4 linked regions of the Homo sapiens genome follow. Changing the gene in region 3 together with the main gene of any one other region gives a genetic interaction. Each region holds a gene or a part of one and is shown on either strand. Other genes may lie near its edges.

Region 1 (3,500 bases), on a different chromosome or scaffold from region 3:
AGTTTAACTCAAATTAATAGTTTAAGCACAAATAGAGATTAGCTCACATCAAATCAGGAGAAAAATAGGGACAAATCTAGCACAAAAGGGCAACTGGCTGACAGTGTGGTGGTGCGCACCTGTAGTACCACCTACTTGGGAGGCCAAGGCAAAAGAATTCTTTGAGACCAGAAGTTTGAATCCAGCCTGGGTAACATACAGAGACTGCCATCTCTTTATTTATTTTTATTTATTTATTTATTTTAAAGGCAACTGGCCATAGACCTCTTTCAGCCTCTCTGCTTTTCTCTGGGGATTAACATCACTCTCTGAGACCAGGTCCTCTGTAGGAGCTTCAGGAAGCTAGCTCTAGGCTCATGAATTCTCAGCCTATACTTCAGTAAAATGCGCGTTTCTCTCTCCCAGCTCCAATTTGAAAAATCCCAGGAAAGAATCCTAATTGGCCTGGACTGGGTCAAGTGTCATGCCTATGGCCTGGCATCTGTAAGAAGAGGGCAGCTCCAATATGTACCATGTAGTTTGAGTCAAGAGAGGAATTCCCCCAAATAAGGTAGAAGGAAGACAGTGAAGTAGGGCAGACACAGCCGGTGGACAAATATGTGTATGAGATGAAAAACTACCTCAAATTTTGGCTCCCATCTTCTGCAAATTCTGTTTCATAGTCTGTTTGTTCTTGCTGAACACAGCGGTGAGTATGTATACATCAGAAATACTTGAGAATCTTCTTAAGAAGAGCTACTCAGGTACCACCCCAAAAGGAGTTGTATCATGAGCATCTTCACATGTCACTAAACACTATTTAAAAACAGTTTTTAATAACTGGATAGAATTCTGATGTGGTTCTGATTTTTTAAAATTTAATTTTATGACTTAAATCCAGAAAAGCCAGATACCATCATGATCCTTTTTGAACACAATATTCAAAAAGAATTTTATGAAAGCACCAACCACTGACATCTTTGCCACATTGTTCTGAGAAACTATGCTAAAGGATTCTTGGCGAGGGGTGGTGGGACAGAGATTATGGGGAGAATACTGGGTGGGGGATGGAGACAATAAGGTGATCCTCTGAGACTCACCATTAGTAAAAATGTACCGTACCACTGAGGTTTAAAAAAAGAAATCTTAAAGTGAGAAGGATAAAATATACTCCCAAATTAAAGCAGGAAAAGCAAGGTTTGTTATAAAGACTGAAGATTAAAACAAACATACTATAACCCAAACAATTTAGGAAAGTTTGTGACACAAGGGAAAAAAGCAGCCTGTGTGATGCCTAGAAAATAAAAACCTAAGAGTAAGTCTGGATCACACTGCCTCTCATTCAGAAGCAGGGGTGCACCTGCTAGGGATGCAAGCCCACCTCACTGGTCTGCTAACATGAGTCACCGGGATCATTCAACTCATTTCCCTTGCTAATATCATGCTTACTAATCAATCTCTTAATTATACTTTGGCTTTCTACAAGCAAGAGAATACACTGACTAACCAGGTGTACAGACAAAGCTGAGTATCTGTGCCTGAGAAGCCAAGCACAGTGAGTGTCTGGGCCTTGATTATCGTGCCAAGGGAGTGCCAGCTTATGAAGACCTACGGAGTCTTCAGCTAATCTCCTTCTCTCACGTTTTCCATTTTCTCTTTAAAGAAACCACTACCAGTAGCCTACTGATAGGCAACGTTAAAGAGTCTTCAAACAGCATACATACTACCTGGTCAAATGACAAGGCTGAGACAATAGAATGCTATGAGTAAAATCATAGTCATGAGGAATGAGGAATTATTAAATAACAGGAAGTTATTACAACAAATGTATCCAGTGAGCAGGCAAGACCTTTATATCCCCGTATTTCAGCAGAGCTCAGAACAAGATTTGCAGGACACCATGAGAGCATACATGAAGGAAACAGAGTGGCCTCTAACAATGACAGAAAATTAAAGGGAACTACAAAGTCCTCCTAAGTGACAAGTCCCCAGTTGAAAACATGAAGTTTCTGCCATCACTGCTGTTTGGTGACTCCTCTCTGCCTAACGCCACCCCCGCCAATGGCATCTACTGTTACAGTGGTGTAAAGGCATGACCATCACTGATGCTACACCAACAGTCTGGAGCACCACAGGAGGCTGACTTTGCCAGGGAGAACAGTTGACATACAAGGTCAAGACTGAAACACACAGGCTCAAGGTGGACATTCAAGCCGAGAGGCAGAGCAAATTGCCTAGGAGTGACGACATTCAACTAGTTTTTTAGTAGGAAATCCAGTTTTTCAAATGAATTTACAATAAATATATAAAGTAAATAATTCATTTTTTAAAAAAAGTTAATTGTTAAATTTATGCAGCATGTACTCATAAGGACAATGAGAACAATGAGGCTATTTTTAATATAAATATTTTAAATGAAAGGTTATAGTAAACAAGAGCATTATATCAGCCTTAATATCCAATTTATTCTGTGTTTTAGGTGTACAGATCCAATAAGTCACAAAGGTAAATTGTTCCAAATTAGTTTTAATAGCTCTCCTAGTCACCTCAGGATCCTCCTAAAACTGCCCCAGAAGCTTGAAAAAGAAATGATAAGCAATGTTTATTTCAAAATTTAATCACTAACAATAACAACAGCTATCCTTATCATGAATTCTTTATCAAAAATAAGGACAAAAGTATCCACAACTGACAGCAAGCAATAAAACTGGAATAGAGTACTATGACCTCTCTGCCTGTTTTGTGTTGCTGGGTCACTGCATAACACTCTTGGGTCAGGAGGAAAGCACACACTAGGCAGATGTGCTGGGCTGGCTGCACCTGCCACGATGGCACACTTGCTGCACAGCTTTGGAGGCCAACATGTACAGGCCTGAATTCTACAAAAGGCCTGTGCATTAACACAACCTTCCTAATCAATGACACACAGACATAAAGTATGTGACAAAGATGGCAAACAGAGTTTTATTCTAGTCTGTGGCAAAACCAGTTAACCTGGTAGCATAAATTATCACATTATTGGTTTCCAATGTATTAAAAGGTGGCATTTCACACATTTTCAACAAACATAAGAAAAAATGCTCAACATCACTAATTATCAGGGAAATGCAAATTAAAACCACAATGAGATACCACCTTACTCCTGCAAGAATGGCCATAATTTAAAAATAATAATTAAAAAAATAGACAATGGCATGGATGTGGTGAGAAGGGAACTCTTATACACTGCTGGTGGGAATGTAAACTAGTACAACTACTGTGGAAAACAATATGGAGATTCCTTAAAAAACTGGCCAGGCGCAGTGGCTCACGCCTGTAATCCCAACACTTTGGGAGGCCAAGATGGGCGGATCACGAGGTCAGGAGTTCAAGACAAGCCTGACCAACTTGGTGAAACCTTGTCTCTACTAAAAATACAAAAATGAGCTGGACCTGGTGGCAGGCACCTATAATCCCAGCTACCCGGGAGGCTGAGGCAGGAGAATTGCTCGAACTCGGGAGGCAGAGGTTGCAGCGAGCTG
Region 2 (3,500 bases), on a different chromosome or scaffold from region 3:
CTGGTCTCAAACTCCTAGAATCACTCAATCGTCCCACCTCAGCCTCTGGGATTACAGGCATGAGCTACTGCACCCAGTTGATTATCTTTTCAGTAGTTAAATATGACACTATTGGACAAACCACTGAGATTGAGTTTCAAATTACTTATGAGTAGTAATCACTTAAAATACTAATGGATAACTATAGTATTCCTTGGACTTTGTTATGTCTGCAACATAATACTCAGCTATGTTAGAGAACTGCACATAATAAAATTTAAATGTAGGAATGTGTTTAGCTCTTAGAAAAACAAAGGAAGAATATATTTGTGATGAAATAAACAGGAGGACATTAAATACTGGTAACATTTTATTTCTTTTTTTAAAAGACTCCTAAATATTAAATAGAAACAAAGAATTATATCTTGTATATTAATACAAGATATAAAGAATAACAATGTAATAAACACCCACTCACTTTAGAAAAACAATGCTCTATTTCCTTTGAAATCTTTAAATACTTCCTTAAATACATTCCCTCCCCTACTTTCTTAGACCATTCTGAATTTGGTTTTATTATACCCTTGCTTTTCTGCATGTTTTTTTCTCCATGTTTACATACTTGAACAATATACTAGGTTTTACATATTTTTGAACTTTGTATAAACAGAATCAGACCATATGAATTCTTTTGCAACTGTCTCTTTTTGCTCTACATCATTATATACCTGAAATTCATCCATGTCACTGCTTGTGACATGCTTGTGTCACTGCTTGTGACATGGCTTGAAAAGCCATGCATTTCATAATTTATTGTTGACAGACATTTGGGTTAGTTTCCTGCTATATTAAAAACATCACCACTGTGAGCATTCTTATATACGAATAATGTTGTATTTTTAAACCAGGTGGGTTGATATACATATATTTACATTTCATTATAATACATAAGAATTTTTGTGTACCTGAATTTTTAAAGTTTTAAATAAAAATAAAGATTTTTATGTCATATAAACTCAGTTTAAAGGGGTAAAAAGTAAAATCCATATGCACATAAGAAAAAAGCATGTATAGGCTGGGTACAGCGGCTCACACCTATAATCCCAGCACTCTGGGAGGCCAAGGGAGGCAGATCACTTGAGGCCAGGAGCTCGAGACCAGCCTGGCCAATATGACAAAACCCCATCTCTACTAAAAATATAAAAATGAGCCAGGTGTGGTGACTCAGGCTTGTAATCCCAGCTACTCAGGGGCCTAAGGCACAAGAATCACCTGAACCAGAGAGGTAGAGGTTACAGTGAGCCGAGATCATGTCACTACACTCCAGCCTGGGCAACACAGCAAGACTCTGTTTCAAAAAAAAAAAAAAGCTGACCATTTGTTAAGCACTATTCTAATACTAAGAATAAAGCATTAAACCAGACAAAAACTACTGCCTCATACAGCTGACATTTCTTTTTTGATTCTGACCCTGTAAGCTTAAAGCTTTCGCTATCCATCCTTCTCAATTTGATGACATTCAGAAAATATAACTAAATTTCTTACATTTTTATCCACGTCATACATAAAAAAAGAGTGAACAGGACAAGACTAAGGTCCAGGGTATTCCACAGGAACTTCCCTTTATTAATCCATTAAAGGATTATTTTAAACTATTCTTGGCCAGGCATGGTGGCTCACGTCTATAATCCCAACACTCTGGGAGGCTAAGGCTGGTAAACTGCTTGAGTCCAGGAGTTCAAGACTAGCCTGAGCAACACAGGAAGACTCCACCTCTTCAAAAAATCAAAAATTAGCCAGGCATGGTGGCACCTGCCTGTGGTTGGTCCTAGCTACTCGGGAAGCTGAGATGGTAGGATTGCTTGAGCCTAGGAGGTCAAGGCTGCAGTGAACTGTGATAATACAGTGCACCCCAGACTGGACAACACAGTGAGCCTGTATCAAAAAAAAAAAAATTATTCTTATACATATAGTGAGCTAGGCTTGCACCTAGGTCAGATTTCTCTACCTGATCCGCACTTGTATTGCAAAATGAGACTTGTGATTTCCAAATATACGAAGTCTCCAAAATTTCCTTGATTTTTCAGATCTTGTCTTGAAATTCCAGTAATGCAAAAAGACTTGATTTTGCCTTGTATGGCTATATTAAAATAATTAGGTAATTAAAATAATTTAGGTAATTATTTTATTTTATTTTAGGTAGTGATAAAATGCTAAACTTACCCCTTTCATCCAACAGAAGATTTTCTGGTTTAATATCCCTGTGAGTTATTCCAATACCATGCAGATAAACCTAAGAGGGATGCAGAGAGAAACACACTAGAATTTGGTAATGTAATGTATTCACTCTAATTTTAAGTAAAAGGGAAATAGACAACTATACCTACCACCCCTGCCATGAGTTGATGGAAGAATCTCTGAGCATCTGGTTCAGGCATGCCTATGTCTGGCTCTAAAACAAATATGAAAGTAAGTTTATTGACTAAATATAATCAGGTAGCAACCACATAGCTTCTTAATTTGAAGCTTAGACATTTACAAATGTGCTTAGGCAAACAGAAGCAAATGCCAACAAAAGATTCAGGAGTCCACTAACACATATGGGGCTTAACTCACATTTACCTGTGTTAGGTGGCAAAAGGCGTCATCACAGAAAAATTATAAAGAGAAAACCAATATCCAAATCAAGAATGCAAGCCATGACTTCAAAGCCTCTGCTTCCTCTTATACTAACCCTGATTTATTTAGTAACCTTGAAATTCCCCCCATTTCTTCTAAATGCTATGCTAATTATTTTTCTCATTCCTGAAATATAATGCCAAAGGGGAAGTCTGGGCAAATCTAAGCCAATTTCACTAAATATTTTACAGATTATACTTCTTTTATAATTTAACTTTTTTTAGAGATACGGTCTTGTTCTTTCACCCAGGCTGGAGTGCCCTGGCGTGAGATCATAACTTACTGTAACCTGGAACTCTTGAGCTCAAGCAATCCTCCTGCCTCCTAAGTAGCTAGGATTGCAGGCATGTACCACCACACCTGGCTCAGATTTAAACTTCATATAGTCTCACAGTACAAAACCACAAATGCCTGTGAGGTCCTTCGTGAAACAGTTTTATTATGAAAGTTCTTTTATCAGTTATCTTTTTATATTTTGATCTCTCTCATTAACTCCATTTCTTTTACCCTCAACTCTCTCCTGAGTCACACTGGAGATCCTAATACCTCTTTATCAGTTTTTAACTGATAAACTTATTTAATACAATAGCTTTAAATTATAAATTTAAATTATAAATTTAGATCCAGATTTTATGTACTTCTCAGTGTTCTGAAATATCAATCCTTTGATTCTACATCGAATATTTAAGTATTAATAGCAAACATAGAATTTACTTAATATACAAAAAGCAATCCTAGAAAATTCTCAATTATTTCATGTAAACCAAGAGGAAACAGCATGCTATTTTAGATCTGTAAATGTATAAAATGTATACAATGATTTCATGTAACTAGAATGTCTA
Region 3 (3,500 bases):
TTTAGTATTTCTTCTTCAGTTATGAATATGGGGAACAAACCATAGTAATAGCAGCAGCACTTATGACTTTATCATCAATAGATGTTAGACATCTTCATTTCATATTTGAATTGCTGCAGAAATCTTAAAGTATCATTGATATTAATTAATTACTACCTTGAAATTTACTACAGGCCACCTCAAGACCTTAATAAGGAAGCACATCTATTATCGGACTTTAAAATGTATTTTGATAACTGTATTTCAATATAATTTGTTTCCTTTTTAACCCTGTGTATCTGTTCTATAATGAAATATCTGCAAATTCTCACTGTGGACCACCATGTTAGGATGAATTAGTTATGAAGTCACTGCTAACACAAAAATGTTCATCATCAAATGTTAAGTGCCTTATGGTTTAAAAGCTCAGTACCAGGCGGAGTTAGGAGGAGGAAAGAGGCTCAGGGACAAGGAATAGCACCTATTTGCACACCAGTCTTTCCCTTTAGGGCAGCAAGTTGTCTGGCACACGGCCAGTATTCAACAGATGTTTGATGATGAACTATATAAAAATATGATTCATGTGGAATGCGTAAAAATAAAAATAGCTATGCTAGGATTTGAAAGACTTTAAATATATAATTGTTTCATCATCTTTTCAATTTGAAACAATCTAATTTGGAAATGGCTGTATTTCTGGGCTGTAGCAAGGAATTATGAAGACTCTCTTTAAATCCACTTTCCTCATGTACAATAAGGACAGTAATTAGCAATTAGAATGTACACCAAAGTTAGTTTTTCAAAATAGGGAGTGGCCAGTATAGAACTTCTATGCGTAGAATAAAGATTTCTTGAATAATGGATACTCTGATATTCAGTATCTTGATCAGAGATTAACTACTATCATATTTCCATTTGTTTATCTTTAGCATAGACCTTCTACAACAGACCCAGCACTGGCCTGCTGATATCTCAGCCCTGAATCCTCTCATTCGCAGATAATCTGCCCACAGCAGACACAGTTCCCTTCATTTTATCCAAGATACCTTAGTTTGCAAGTTCATCATAGACTTCTCAAAAGTTTTTGGTGGTGCCCTCTGATGGTTACAAAGAATTGCAACAGCTCGATTGGCACGGTTATAAGAAAGGATCTTCGCTGGGATGTTCTCATCCGCTGTAAAGAAAGGAACATGGTAGCAAGAGGGTCAGTTTGTACACCAAAAGTGAACACACAGTATGTCTTCCCCCAGTGCCTCGTCCCCATGATTTTGCTGGCTCTTATCTTACTCAGATGATTAATTCAAATTGCCCCCAAGGACTAAGGTCAAAATTTGAGTCAACAGTCTTAAGAAAATGATAGTAGGAAGTTTATATGTAAGCTTGGCCTGGGTAAATTCCTATCACAAGAGGAACTCTGAGTCTAGGTAATATAATAAAATCTACACCTTTCTTTTTACTCAGGGAACTTGGCTAGGGACCCTTCATCTCCTTGCTTCCTCCCCACCCATATGCTCATCATAGGTGCTGCTGATATTACTATGGTTTGTTGCCCATATTCATAAGTTCTATACTGGCCACTTCCTACCTCCCCACCTCTCCACCCAATGTAGCCAGAACAGAACGAGGAATTGAAGGGACGTTAAAAGTTTAAAAATTTTGGCCGGGCGCGGTGGCTCACACCTGTAATCCCAGCACTTTGGGAGGCCGAGGCGGGCGGATCACAAGGTCAGGAGATCGAGACCATCCTGGCTAACACGGTGAACCCTGTCTCTACTAAAAATACAAAAAATTAGCCGGGCGACATGGCGGGCACCTGTAGTCCCAGCTACTCGGGAGGCTGAGGCAGGAGAATGGCGTGAACCCCAGGAGGCGGAGCTTGCAGTGAGCCGAGATCGCGCCACTGCACTCCAACCTGGGTGACAGCAAGACTCCGTCTCAAAAAAAAAAAAAAAAAAAAAAAAATTAAGCCACAGTTGGTAGTATTATTATGGTTATTATTATTATTTTAGAGATAGCGTCTCACCCTGTCACCCAAGCTGGAGTGCGGTGGTATGGTCGTAGCTCATTACAGCCCTAAACTCCTGGGCTCAGCCTCCCAGGTAGCTGGGATGACAGGTGCACACCGCCACACCTGCCTAATTTTTAGAAATTTTAGTAGAGACAAGGTCTCACTACATTGCCCAGGCTGGTCTGGAACTCCTGGGTTCAAGTGATTCTCCTGCCTCGGCTACCCAAGTGTTGGGATTACAGGTGTGAGCCACTGCACATGGCCTGGTAGTATCTTATTTAAAAAGAAAAATTAAAAATGCCATCCAAAAAAATTGTTTTTATTTGTATAGTGTGGCATTCTTTATACCACCTTAAAATACTGACCCTCAACATACCTACCTCTGGCTTTTCTGGTTCATATTCTAAGGCCATCTGATGTATTTACAGAGGGCAGTGGAAATTCAATAGTGACTGGGCTCCAGGAAAAAAAAAGCCCGTGGATCTTGGTGATAATATTCTAAAAATCAGCTATAGAAAGTATCTACTCTCTTATGGGAAAAAAATGACAGAAACCTCAAGGAAAGGACTTGTTCCTGTATTTTTCTGGTAACCATGACAACTTTACTCTCTCCAATTTAACAGAACATCACAGCACTGTCTTCACTCTGTGGGCTTTTAAGTAATATATGTATAAAACACAAATGCAGGCATTTTTGTAGCAGGTGAAAAGCTGTCAGCATTCCATGAAATTAATCTTGAAGTTGGGGTGGGAAGGGGGAAACAGCATTGATCCTATGTTTATACAACAAAGCATTATCTCGCTACTAGAGGTCTAAAGGGAAAAAGTGTCTGACCACAATGGTAGGGAAAAAAAGTAGAACTGACTCTAGGCCTTAGATAAGCAAGGTCACCGGATACCATTAGTAGGGGTGTGGGCCCTATCTGGCCAAGCAATACTTACGGGCTGTCAGTTCTTTTAGCTGCTGCTGTAGCGTGATGGAGGCATTGTATGTACGGAATACCTTGGCTGTCAAGCCCTCCATGAGATCCTGAAGATGCTTATTCAGAATACCAGTCTGGAGGAGACAAAGCAACAGATTTAGGTCAAAGCTATACTACCTGCTCCTTCTGGCAGCCCTAGGAGTAATTTATGCCAGTGCAGTCACAATCTTGTCAAGTTTATTGCCCTACAAGTGGGAAGTTAGGGAAAGAGGAAAAGAATTCCAGAATACAGGGTTACATGATGCCTCTCTATGAAGTATTTCAATCTTTGTGTGTGTGTATGACAGGGTCTCACTCTGACACCCAGCCTGGAGTGCAGTGGTACAATCTCGGTTCACTGCTGCCTCCACCTCCCGGGCTCATGCAATCCTTCTGAGGCTCCTAAGCAGCTGGGACTACAGGTGTGGACTACCACACCTGGATAATGGTTTTGCCATGTTGCCCAGGCTGGTCTCAAACTCCTGACCTCAAGGGATCTGCCCTACTTGACCTCTCAAAGTGCTGGGATAACAGGCGTAAGCCACCAAGCC
Region 4 (3,500 bases), on a different chromosome or scaffold from region 3:
TTTCTTGATTATACGCTCAACAAGCGGTAGAAGATTCATGAGTTTTCCCTGAAAGGGACAGGTAATTCCCAGGACTGAGGGTTCCTCCCCTTTTTAGACCATATAGAGTATCTCTGGTCATTGCTATGGCATTTGTAAACTGCCATGGCACTGGTGGGAGTGTCTTTTAACATGCTAATGCATTATAATTAGTGTGTAATAAGCAGTAGGGATGACCAGAGGTCACTTTCATCACCATCTTCGTTTTGGTGGGTTTTGGCCAGCTTCTTCACTGCATTCTGGTTTTGCTGGCTTATTTATTTATTTATTTATCTATTTTTGAGACAGGGTCTTATTCCATCACCCAGGCTGGAGTGCAGTGGCCTGATCTCAGCTCACCGCAGCCTCCATCCTCCCATCTCAGCCTGCCACCCAACTGCCCCTCAGACCAGTAGCTGGGACTATAGGCCTGCACCATCATGCCCAGCTCATGTTTTTAAAATTATTGTTTGTAGAGACAAGGTCTCACTATGTTGTCCAGGCTCATCTTGAAATCCTGGGCTCAAGCAATCTTCCTGCCTTGGCCTCCCAAAGTACTATGATTACAGGAATGAGCCACCAAACCTGGCCTGCAACCTGTTTTATCACTGGGGTCTTTATGACCTGTATCTATCAACTCCTATACCAACTCCTTTCTCTCCTGTGACTACAAATGTGTAACCTCCTGGGAATGCAGCCCAGCAGGTCTCATCCTCTTCTTACCTAGGCCCTATTCAAGATGAAGTCACTCTGGTATGAACTCCTCTGATGCTAACTCATACAATGGAGTGAGCCTAATGGGACACAATTTGTTCCATCATTGGCTTTGGAAGCTAAAATATGTGTGCATGTGATTCCTGAGTAAACTGGTTTAAAAAAAAGAAAGAGTGAGAGAGAAATTCAATGTATTCATATATTGCTGTGTTTAGCCCTAGTTGGGTTTGGTTTGGTTGGAGGGGATCCAGGATCCAGAAGATAATAGCCTAATCAAAGTTTTTGGTGGGGCCTAATCATGTATTTCTACCGTAAGGTGGCCTACTTTGCAGAAATCAGATTTCTGTTTTATTGAATGCTACCAGGAAAATGGGAGAGGAAGAGAACACAGAGAAAAAGGTGGAAGGCTCCTCACAGGAAGGGGAGTGGGGTATGTAGAAAACAAAGTAAGAGAAGGAGAAACCATTATTTACTAAGCCAAAGTTTGCATGTGCATGCTGTGTTTGTGAAGAATAACCCTGTGATTACTTAGAGCTGATTTTAAGAAGTGGCAGTTGAGGCTCAGAGAGGTTTTGCAAATGACCCAAAGTCACACAGCCAGTGACAGAGCCAGGATTTGAACACAAGGTCGTGTGATACAAACGCCATGCCCTCTCCACTTCACCATATGGTCTCTCTCAAGGGAAGGTCAGTGTTTTAGCCATATCCCACCCCTGTGTGCCACCTACTTGCCTGACTATTTCCTAGGGCAAATTATACCTCCTCCTTCCATTTTCCTCCTTTGCTCACCACAGCAGGAGAAACACAATTACAGTGCTGTGAACCCAAATGCAATTCACACAATGCTGGCTGGCTGATGGCCTCCGAGGATCCTGACATGTGCCTGGGATGCAAGGCTTCCACACTGCTGCGGTGGCAGGCACAGTGGGCCCCAGAGCCAGGCTGGCCAGCCTGATTTACCACAATTAGCAGTAATGCTTGTGTGTTTGTACATATAAATATCAGCCTCCCACTGACAATCCACTCAGCAAACTTCAAACAAGGCCTCCAGAGCCAGCTTGATGTCTTTGGTTTTATCACATTTAGAACCCATATTTCTTTGGCAAGACTTGCCAAAGATGCATCTTTAAAGCTTTCTCCAGCTTAAAAGAAGGGCTCACTGCTTTTCCTGTGCAAGCTCTAAGCAGTGCTTTGCCCTGGCCAGACACTCCCAGATTTCCTTCAGTGCCTCCAGATACAGTGGACCCTCTGCCAGGAAAGATTATTTACTGACATATAAAGTGGCCAATGAGGCCGGGCGTGGTGGCTCACATCTGTAATCCCAACACTTTGGAAGGCTGAGGTGGGCAGATCACTTGAGGTCAGGAGTTCAAGACCATCCTGGCCGACATGATGAAACCCCATCTCTACTAAAAATACAAAAAATTAGCCAGGCATGGCGGCAGGTACCTATAATCCCAGCTACTCGGGAGGCTGAGGCAGGAGAATGGCTTCAACCCAGTAGGCAGAGGTTGCAGTGAGCCAGGATCTCGCCACTGCACTCCAGCCTGGGTGACAGAGCAAGATTCTGTCTCAAAAAAAAAGTGGGCAATGGAAACAGGTCCTCTGAGCAAGCCATCAGGAAGGAAGAGAATAAACATGTGTTTGTTGCTTAAGATTCCAAACCCCAATCTCTGATAACAGTGGTTCCCTGGGTAGAAATCAGGCCTGTTTGTGAACTTTCTTTTTTTCTTTTTTCTTTCTTTCTTTTTCTTTTTTTAGATGGAGTCTTGCACTGCCGCCTGGGCTGGAGTGCAGTGGCATGATCTCAGCTCATTGCAACCTCTGCCTCCCAAGTTCAAGCGATTCTCCTGTCTCAGCCTCCCGAGTAGCTGGTATTACAGGTGCCCACCATCATGGCCAGCTAATTTCTTGTATTTTTAGTACAGACAGGGTTTCACCATGTTGGTCAGGCTGATCTCGAACTCCTGACCTCGTGATTCACCCACGTCGGCTTCCCAAAGTGCTGGGATTACAGGCGTGAGCCACTGTGCTCAGCGTGTTTGTGAAGTTTCATGTCATTACTTATCTATAACTCAGACAGTTTACTCATGAATAATGGCAGTGCTTGCCCCACAGGGAGGTAATGAAGAAAAATGGGAAACATGGGGAATTTCCTCACCTATTAGACCTGTAGTGAGGCTCTCTGGGAGTGAGTCTTGCTGTTCCTGCCACTTTTATCTACTCTAAATGCTCATCCTTAATTAGTAACTGCTATTCTGGAGCTCATCTAAAGTCAGGTGTGCAAATATAAGTAACTGAAACTACAAATTCTGAGAAACATGGCACCATAAGAATCCGTGAGAACAACCCCCTTTGCAGGGAAGAACACTAGATTTCACCCAAATCTTTTCTTCAATCATAATTACTTCCCTCATGCCAACTACATGTTGAACTTCAGCCCCCATTCTCAATAATCACAGCTCAAAAAACATTTGCCATAACTTAGAGGAACAAACTGAGAAAGAGACCCCCCGCCCTGTTGACTCTCAGGCAGGTGACTTGTGCTTTTCCACCATCCTCTTGGCCTTCTTATGCTTTCTCTCAGAAGAAAGGATGGAAATCACATTGGACTAGCCACTGATCCCAAATCTGATACTCTATCCAACTCTCTGAACCTCAGTCTTTTCTTCTAGGAAGCACGACTACCAAGGCCTGACTGGTTGCTTGCCCTGTGGCATTCTTGTAAGGACTAAATTATATAGTTTAATTGAAAGTGCTTTGATTTT

The links. Genes that interact genetically often act in the same process or in processes that back each other up.
Region 1: changes in TOP1 (region 3) and MAP3K4 are lethal when combined (synthetic lethality), as found in Homo sapiens cells (one large-scale study listed by BioGRID).
Region 2: changes in TOP1 (region 3) and CHEK1 are lethal when combined (synthetic lethality), as found in Homo sapiens cells (one large-scale study listed by BioGRID).
Region 4: changes in TOP1 (region 3) and PDGFRA together harm fitness more than expected from each alone (negative genetic interaction), as found in Homo sapiens cells (one large-scale study listed by BioGRID).

The regions. Positions count from the first base shown.
Region 1 is NC_000006.12:160,994,769-160,998,268, reverse strand, and holds part of MAP3K4 (mitogen-activated protein kinase kinase kinase 4), read right to left. Parts: intron 1-3,500. UniProt on the Homo sapiens protein: Component of a protein kinase signal transduction cascade. Activates the CSBP2, P38 and JNK MAPK pathways, but not the ERK pathway. Specifically phosphorylates and activates MAP2K4 and MAP2K6.
Region 2 is NC_000011.10:125,628,163-125,631,662, reverse strand, and holds part of CHEK1 (serine/threonine-protein kinase Chk1), read right to left. Parts: intron 2,432-3,500; coding exon 2,367-2,431; intron 2,273-2,366; coding exon 2,203-2,272; intron 1-2,202. UniProt on the Homo sapiens protein: Serine/threonine-protein kinase which is required for checkpoint-mediated cell cycle arrest and activation of DNA repair in response to the presence of DNA damage or unreplicated DNA.
Region 3 is NC_000020.11:41,115,822-41,119,321, reverse strand, and holds part of TOP1 (DNA topoisomerase 1), read right to left. Parts: intron 3,045-3,500; coding exon 2,930-3,044; intron 1,154-2,929; coding exon 1,026-1,153; intron 1-1,025. UniProt on the Homo sapiens protein: Releases the supercoiling and torsional tension of DNA introduced during the DNA replication and transcription by transiently cleaving and rejoining one strand of the DNA duplex.
Region 4 is NC_000004.12:54,235,793-54,239,292, reverse strand, and holds part of PDGFRA (platelet-derived growth factor receptor alpha isoform 1 precursor), read right to left. Parts: intron 1-3,500. UniProt on the Homo sapiens protein: Tyrosine-protein kinase that acts as a cell-surface receptor for PDGFA, PDGFB and PDGFC and plays an essential role in the regulation of embryonic development, cell proliferation, survival and chemotaxis.